Linked DNA regions of Homo sapiens: region 2 is reported to be linked to region 1. Evidence: microRNA targets listed by miRTarBase, many of them from high-throughput screens and not tested one by one. Region 1 holds a microRNA gene; the other region holds the end of a gene's coding sequence.

Evidence for each region. Region 1 holds the annotated microRNA hsa-miR-7-1-3p (CAACAAAUCACAGUCUGCCAUA, at 2,527-2,548, opposite strand). A microRNA usually pairs through its seed, bases 2 to 8, with sites in the 3' UTR of a target mRNA and lowers its output. Matches are read on the target gene's strand: a 7mer-m8 pairs with bases 2 to 8, a 7mer-A1 pairs with bases 2 to 7 and ends in A, and an 8mer does both.
Region 2: miRTarBase lists MATN1 as a target of hsa-miR-7-1-3p. Seed matches in the 3' UTR shown: 7mer-m8 at 1,249-1,255.

Annotation. Positions count from the first base shown.
Region 1 is chr9:83,967,245-83,970,588 of GRCh38, forward strand. MIR7-1 (microRNA 7-1) reads right to left here and starts at 2,613; the gene lies at 2,504-2,613. It overlaps HNRNPK (heterogeneous nuclear ribonucleoprotein K), which reads right to left. Exons shown (of 17, transcript NM_031263.4): 16 at 2,918-3,087; 17 at 839-2,196. The coding sequence ends at 2,163.
Region 2 is chr1:30,710,617-30,714,027 of GRCh38, reverse strand. It overlaps MATN1 (matrilin 1), which reads left to right. Exons shown (of 8, transcript NM_002379.3): 8 at 397-2,751. The coding sequence ends at 446. Among named protein-coding and RNA genes, the nearest start is that of MATN1-AS1, 6.4 kb to the left of the region's middle.

The DNA of each region.
Region 1 (3,344 bases):
TTCTCTCCAGGGATGCTTTCCTTCAGTAGGATTAACAATTTGACTAAAGTGTCCTTGTCATTTTTCTTTAGGGGTAAGGGCTCATTTCACCCTGAGCAACCCCAACTCAACCACACTGGGGAAACCATACCACAGGTAGCATTCACTAGTTTTAAGTAATATTTTGACATTTACTTCATGTTCTTCATTAATCAAAAGATCACTCTACGTCCCTCCCCAAACTAAATGTCACTCAACTCTACTTCCCTTAAAAGACATTATTCTGTTCATACTATTAATACTTACATGAATTCTAGAACTGCCCAACTGTTACTTTTATTATACACAAGCCTCTGACCTAAATTCAATAATTACATTCATGACTCCTTTCCTATATAGTTGTTCATCTGTTTTGAGGCAGGAAGATTGCTTGTGCCCAGAAGATGGAGGTTGCAGTGAGCCAAGATTATGCCACTGCACTCCAGCCTGGGAAAAACAGCAAGACACTGTCTCAAAAAACAAAACAAAACAAAACAAAAACAGTTTTCAAGCTTTCTGGACAGCTGGAGGTTAATAAGTAGTACTTCAGAAATATGAGCCGGGAACCATACTCTGCAGTTATTTTACATTATCTCCGATATTCTCAAACATCAAACTAAAGCTATTTTAGAGAAAGGAACCAAGTAACTCACTCAAAATTTCTCATAGGTAATGAGGAAAGCTCTGGCTGACTATAAGAAAAAAAAAATTGGATGACTAGGCTCTCATTTTGCTAAATTACCACGTTAATTATGAGCCCAACTACCACCCCTGCCAGCTTTCACTTATAAATGCTAGAAAAACACTTCACACAAAAAAATACATAAGATTACTATATTTCCTTTTAAGAGGAACGTTTCAACAAATTTTACAGGTGTCAATCAACCCTTGTTCAAATCGGGCACACATCAAATCTAGCATCATGGGTGTTTTATTTATTTGGAAGTGAATTTTAACTATCAATACAAATGCCAAGATACTACACAAAACATCCACAGGAACTTTTTTCATCTTTTTTTTTTTTGAATTGTACACAAACATTTCCTACATAATCCAACATACAACAGAGAAATGGTACATCTTTTTCTTTCAATTTGCATACAATGGAAAAACAAGTATATATATATTTTACAAAGTTTAACTAATAAGACACTAGAGCAAATTGACAGTTTAAGTCTATAGGTGAGAAATTATCTAATAAAAATAATCAATTTTTTCAGCATTAGTCACTTCCATAACCAAGTGTTATTCTGATTAATAAAACTTGCTGCCAATCAGAATTCTGGTATATACTCATACCATTACTCAACTTGTAGTACTGCTCCCCACCTTAGTTCTTCACAACTAACATAGAAAATTGTTGAAAAGTAGGGGCAAGCATTTGCAAAAACAAACAAAAAATCCCCAGCTTATTATAAGCATGAATATGTATGATGGAATTTCTTCCCAGCAATAGACTTCCAAACCATCAAGAAATCACCAGAACTAAGTTTGCCAAGTTATTTTGCCTATGTCCAACAAGAGATGCACTTATATGTCCAACAGAGGAGCTGAAAATTAAACTTAGTGTTTAGTTTGGGGGTGGGTTGGGAAATTCAGCCACCATTTTAAAATGACTGTCTTAAAAAAAAAATGACCACCAAAAATAGGTTCACTAAATTTATTTTAAAAATCATAAAACGTTTCTTACAAAAGAGCATTACATTCTGCACACTGCTCTGAACAGATGCCAGGGACATGTGGACTATTGTTACTTTTCCTCCCTGTCCCACCCCCCAAATGTTACAGTGACCACAAAGCAAGGTGTTCACAATAATTACATGGGGGGAATTTTTTAAACCACCAACAATAACGAAAAATAAAATCCACTCACTCTGCTGCTGTTTCAAAATTTCAATGTTAGTTTTTGCACGCCCTTCCCCCCCCCAACCCTGTTTGTAAGGAACTAAAACATTACATCTGGTGAACAGCAAAGATTTCACTACACCTCAAATGCAGAACACCTATGAAGCAGAGGAATGTTGGCTTTTTAAACAGAAGCAGATAAAAAAAAAAAGATGCAGGACTCCTTCAGTTCTTCACTAGTCTTAGAAAAACTTTCCAGAATACTGCTTCACACTATAAAAAAGAAAAAATATCTTGCATTAGAATCCTTCAACATCTGCATACTGCTTCACACTATAAAAGAAAAGAAAAAAAAGTGCGAATTAGAATTTTTGCTCGTAACATCTTAATCAACATCAAGACAATTTCAATGCTAAATTAAAATGATAAACACGTCCATTACAATTAGAAGAGTTCAAAAACCATTAGCAATTACAAATTAAAGCAATGTTAAGTGTCAAGAAAAATGATGAGTAGTAAATCGGACATTAGTAGAACAGAATTAAGAAAACGGAATTGAAAGTTGTTAATATTTGGTAGAAAAGACAAAGAATGCTAGTAAGGTGTGAAATGCTGCATTTTACAGCACCAATCATTTGTCCTGTAGAGGCATGGCCTGTGCCATATGGCAGACTGTGATTTGTTGTCGATTTAGTTATCTAAAAACAACAAAATCACTAGTCTTCCACACAGAACTAGGCCAACATCCAATGAATCTTCTATATTTTCTACAGGCTCTGTACAATTTTTAACAAGTGGTTTTGGCAGCAGTTTTCACCAGAGAAATGAGAAGTTTGCTTGGTTAAGGCTTCTTCCAGCAAGATTAGTATTGAATGTCTTCATTTTTAGTAAGAAAGCAGAAGAAAAATTAAGGCAAACTATTAGAATGTTTAGAAGTTAGGTCCCCAAAAGGTTGAGACACCATGGCTTCTAAAAGAAAAAAATCAATTGAGAAGAAAAGCTTTTTAAAGGTTTTAGTATGTATAAGCTAACACAAAGCTAAACTTAAACTGACCTGTTCTGCAGCAAATACTGTGCATTCTGTATCTGGTCCTGTGTTCCTGTAATGGTAATGATCCGATCTTCGGATCCTTCTAAAGGCTCATCAATTTTGATCGAAGCTCCCGACTCATGACGGATTTGTTTAATCCGCTGACCACCTTTGCCAATAATAGATCCAGCCAACTGAAAAGATTTTTTAAAAGTATGTGTTTACGATATACTTTTAACATTTACTACCTGTATTTTCAAGGAGCATGAAGTTATTAATTTTATTCATTCAGAATCTTAACTGATGATCTAACGCTCCCTAAACCTGTCAAGGTTTGAGTTATAATGTATTTATGTCACACTTACTAATGTTTCCCTTAGTTAGTTAAGGGCTCAAAACCTACTTAACTACTTTTATTAATAGCACTGATCACTTGACAAGACTCAAACAG
Region 2 (3,411 bases), not on the chromosome of region 1:
AGGATCTAGGGACTGGACACACACCAGAGTCCTGGACATGCTCTGAAGAACATGGAGCCCATGGATGCCCCATTTCTCAGGCTCATGGTGACGTGCCTGACCCCAGTACCCACTCAGAGGTGGGGCTGGGCCCCAGACAGTTCCCCTGGCTCAGCCAGGACTAGGTGGGGAACCCAGCAGGTCTAAATCTGCAACTGAGCAGGGCTGGGCACTCGTGGCTCACAGTAACTGGCTGTGTTTTTTGGAAAGCACCATTCTGAGGACAGTGGATGGATAAGTTCTGACAGAGGGGAGAATGCACGCTGTAGTGGGGTGTTGCAGGGGCCTGAGTGCAGGGCCACAGCCATCCCTGCCCTGCTCTGGCCAACCTGCACCTCTCCTTAACTCTGAGTCCACTGGAAGCTGTGAGTAAGCGGCTGGCCATCCTGGAGAACACAGTTGTCTAAGGCTGCCTGTCACCACTGTGGCCTCTCCAAGCGTCCTGCACGTGTCCGCCGTAGCTTTACCATTTTAGTGAGGGAAGCCAGCCCGGGGGTGGGAGGGGGTGTGTCTGGGTGTGCCTATTGAGAGCGTGTAATGGCGTTTGGGAGCTCGTGTGTGTATGTGTGCGTGTGTGTATGTGTGCATGTGTGTGTGTGTGTGTGTGTGTGCACGTGCGCCTGAGGGTGGGCATGAGTCTTGCCAGAATGTGAGTGTGAGAGTGATAATGCAGGGGTGAGTGTGAGAGGGACTGCGTTTGCATTTTTATAATCAAAAGCTTAATATATTCCCATCTTTTTTAGTTAACCCTTTCTTGACTCTGAGTGCTGTGAATTTCTTTACTGATTTCTCTATTCTCCGGTGAGAAACAATTAAATGTGATTTAACGTAAGCAGTGAATGGGGCTAGAGGCAGTGTGGTTATTTGGGGACCAGGGAAAAGGATGGATGAAGATGTGGTGGGAGGGGATGGTTGGAAGGATGGTAACAGTGGTGGTGACAGTGATGACAGTGACCACACCAAAACCAGCTGGTGTTTGTCCTGCCTTTTCAGTTACATATTCATTTAGTTGACCTCATTTCACTTCCAGTAACCTTACCCAGAAAAGACTCAAATTATCCCCATTACAAATGGGAAAGCTGAGAGTCTAAATGATGAAATGACTTGCTCAGCAGTGGGTCGCTGAGAGACAGGACTTGAATCTAGGACTGAAGAACATCAAAAGAAAAAGGCTTCAGAGAAAAAGGGCAATGACACCAGATAGGACTCATTTGTTCATTCATTCATTCGTTCACTCATTCGTTCAGGTATCATGTACTTACAGGGCAATGGCGGTGGGGGGGGATGGTGCTGTATGAGACAGACGTAGTTCCTGCCCTAAGAGACATACAGTTGAGCAGGGTGCTCATGTCACCCCCACCAGCCAGAGGGACCAGCCAGAGGAAAAGAGAGTGGGTTTAGGTCGTACCAGGGGTTTGTGCCTCCTCTTGATACCTGGGAGCCCACGGGGTGAGTGTGTGTGTGAGATGATGGGAAGGGCTCCAGCCTGGGCCTGGGCTGCCCTAGGTGCCTCTCCCCTCCCGCCCCCAACATGCCCTGTTGGAGTTCTGTTTGTTTCCTGTGCACAGGCGGCATCACCCCCAACCCAAAGTCCCCAACGCAGATGGCAGCAGCCCCACCTCAGAGACTGCACAAGAGAAAGACTCCTGGCCCCATGTTCCCTTCCTCCAGCCCTATGTGGGGTCTGCAGGTCACACCCTGAGATCTCGGCCACCTCCCCCAGGCCCCTGTTGGACCAGTGCTGCTCCGGAATCTCCATCTCTGTCCTCTCAGAGGGGGAGCTTTGGTGATTTTCTGAACCTATTCTTGTTTAATGGAGCATTTTTAGTGTTACTACTAGATTCACACTTGAGAGCATGTCTAAAAGGCTTTTACAAGAAGCTCAGACCACACCGAAAGATCTTCCTCGGAGGCAGTTCAAAGAGGCAGAATAACAACACGAACGGTACCCAAGAGCTACATCAGTACAACAGCACAAATACACAAGCGCGACTTAACTGGGGCACAGCCACCCTCGCCCCCATGACCTGACTCCACCTCCTACACAGTTCACCAAACCCTTTCTCTCTGTCCGTCCCTGGGGCAGGAGTTTTTCTGCTGTCCAAGGAGGCTCCTTGACACAGCCACCTGAGAAGTTATGACTCTGCTCATTCTTCCTTTCTTCTGAGATTATCCACTCCCCTCTCCTCCCCACACAGGTGGGGAGGGGGAGAGGCAGCCATGTTGATATGGACTGAGAAGGCTCAGCAGTGTGTCCCCAAGGAGGAGGAGAGGGTCATTAGCGGACGCCATGGCCTGGGAGCTGGCGGGCAGAAGCAACAGATGTCCCTGATGAGTGGAGTCAGAGATGGGGTGGAAGCCCTGCCTGGGAATAGGACCTCGTTCTTCCCTGCCCGGTGGGTGGAGTAGTGGCAGGACCTTGTCACCAGGCTCTGATGAAGGCAGGGACCAGCTTCTTGGGATCTTTCAATCCCAAACTCTTGCCCTTCACTCATCGCAGTTCTCCCCACGGCTACTCCAGGTCCTCTTGAAATCCGTCCTCTCCATGGACTTCCCACATCCCTCTCTGCTCTAGGTTTGATTAACAGAAGGTTGTAAATGAAAACCAGCATCTCCCGAGGGCAGCCATGGTCTACTGACAGATGGCAAGTTACTTTGTAACCTGTAATTTTGTTTTTTTGAATTTTGTATAAATAAACAGGACTAAACTAATTAGGATTGTTCTTTTCTTTCTTTCCTCAGGCCTTGGGCTATAATGGGAGTCTCTTGGCCCCGTAGTGCATTGGTTACCAGGTTTCAATAAAGGGTTTGTCTTTGCAATTACAGTTCATTAATGGATTTACAAGGGAGAGAAGATGGCACAGTCCGCTAAGGGGATTGTTTTGCATTTCTCCTCTTTTAATTACATGGTTTTCTCCTGGACCAGTGCTCTTTGAAAAAAGGGGGCGGGGGTGGAGAGTCCCAATGCCCCATCTGTTCCAGATGTGAATGCAATTAATCCAGGAGAAGACAGGAGCTGCTCAGGGACTTCCTGATACCTGAGGCTGGGCCTGCATCCTCTTCAGAGCCGCCTGTGAGGCTGGGGGTTGGGGGGCCCTGCTACTCAACCCTGGTTGGCATCAAGGTATGTTGACAAGGGGAGGGGACCACTCTGCTTATGGGGGCGTCGCAGCCTTGGAGTATTTGGGGTCAGAATCAAGTTTGGGTCACCTATTGAGTTACCATTTTTGGGTGATCCCTATGTGCCGGGTGATATATACACAATTTCCAATTCACACTTCTCAGTGATCCTTTTAATAAACTTATTTCACAGACAGGGACACCAAGGCTGCCAGATGTAAAGTGTCACGTGGACAGGAAGTGGCTGGGCTG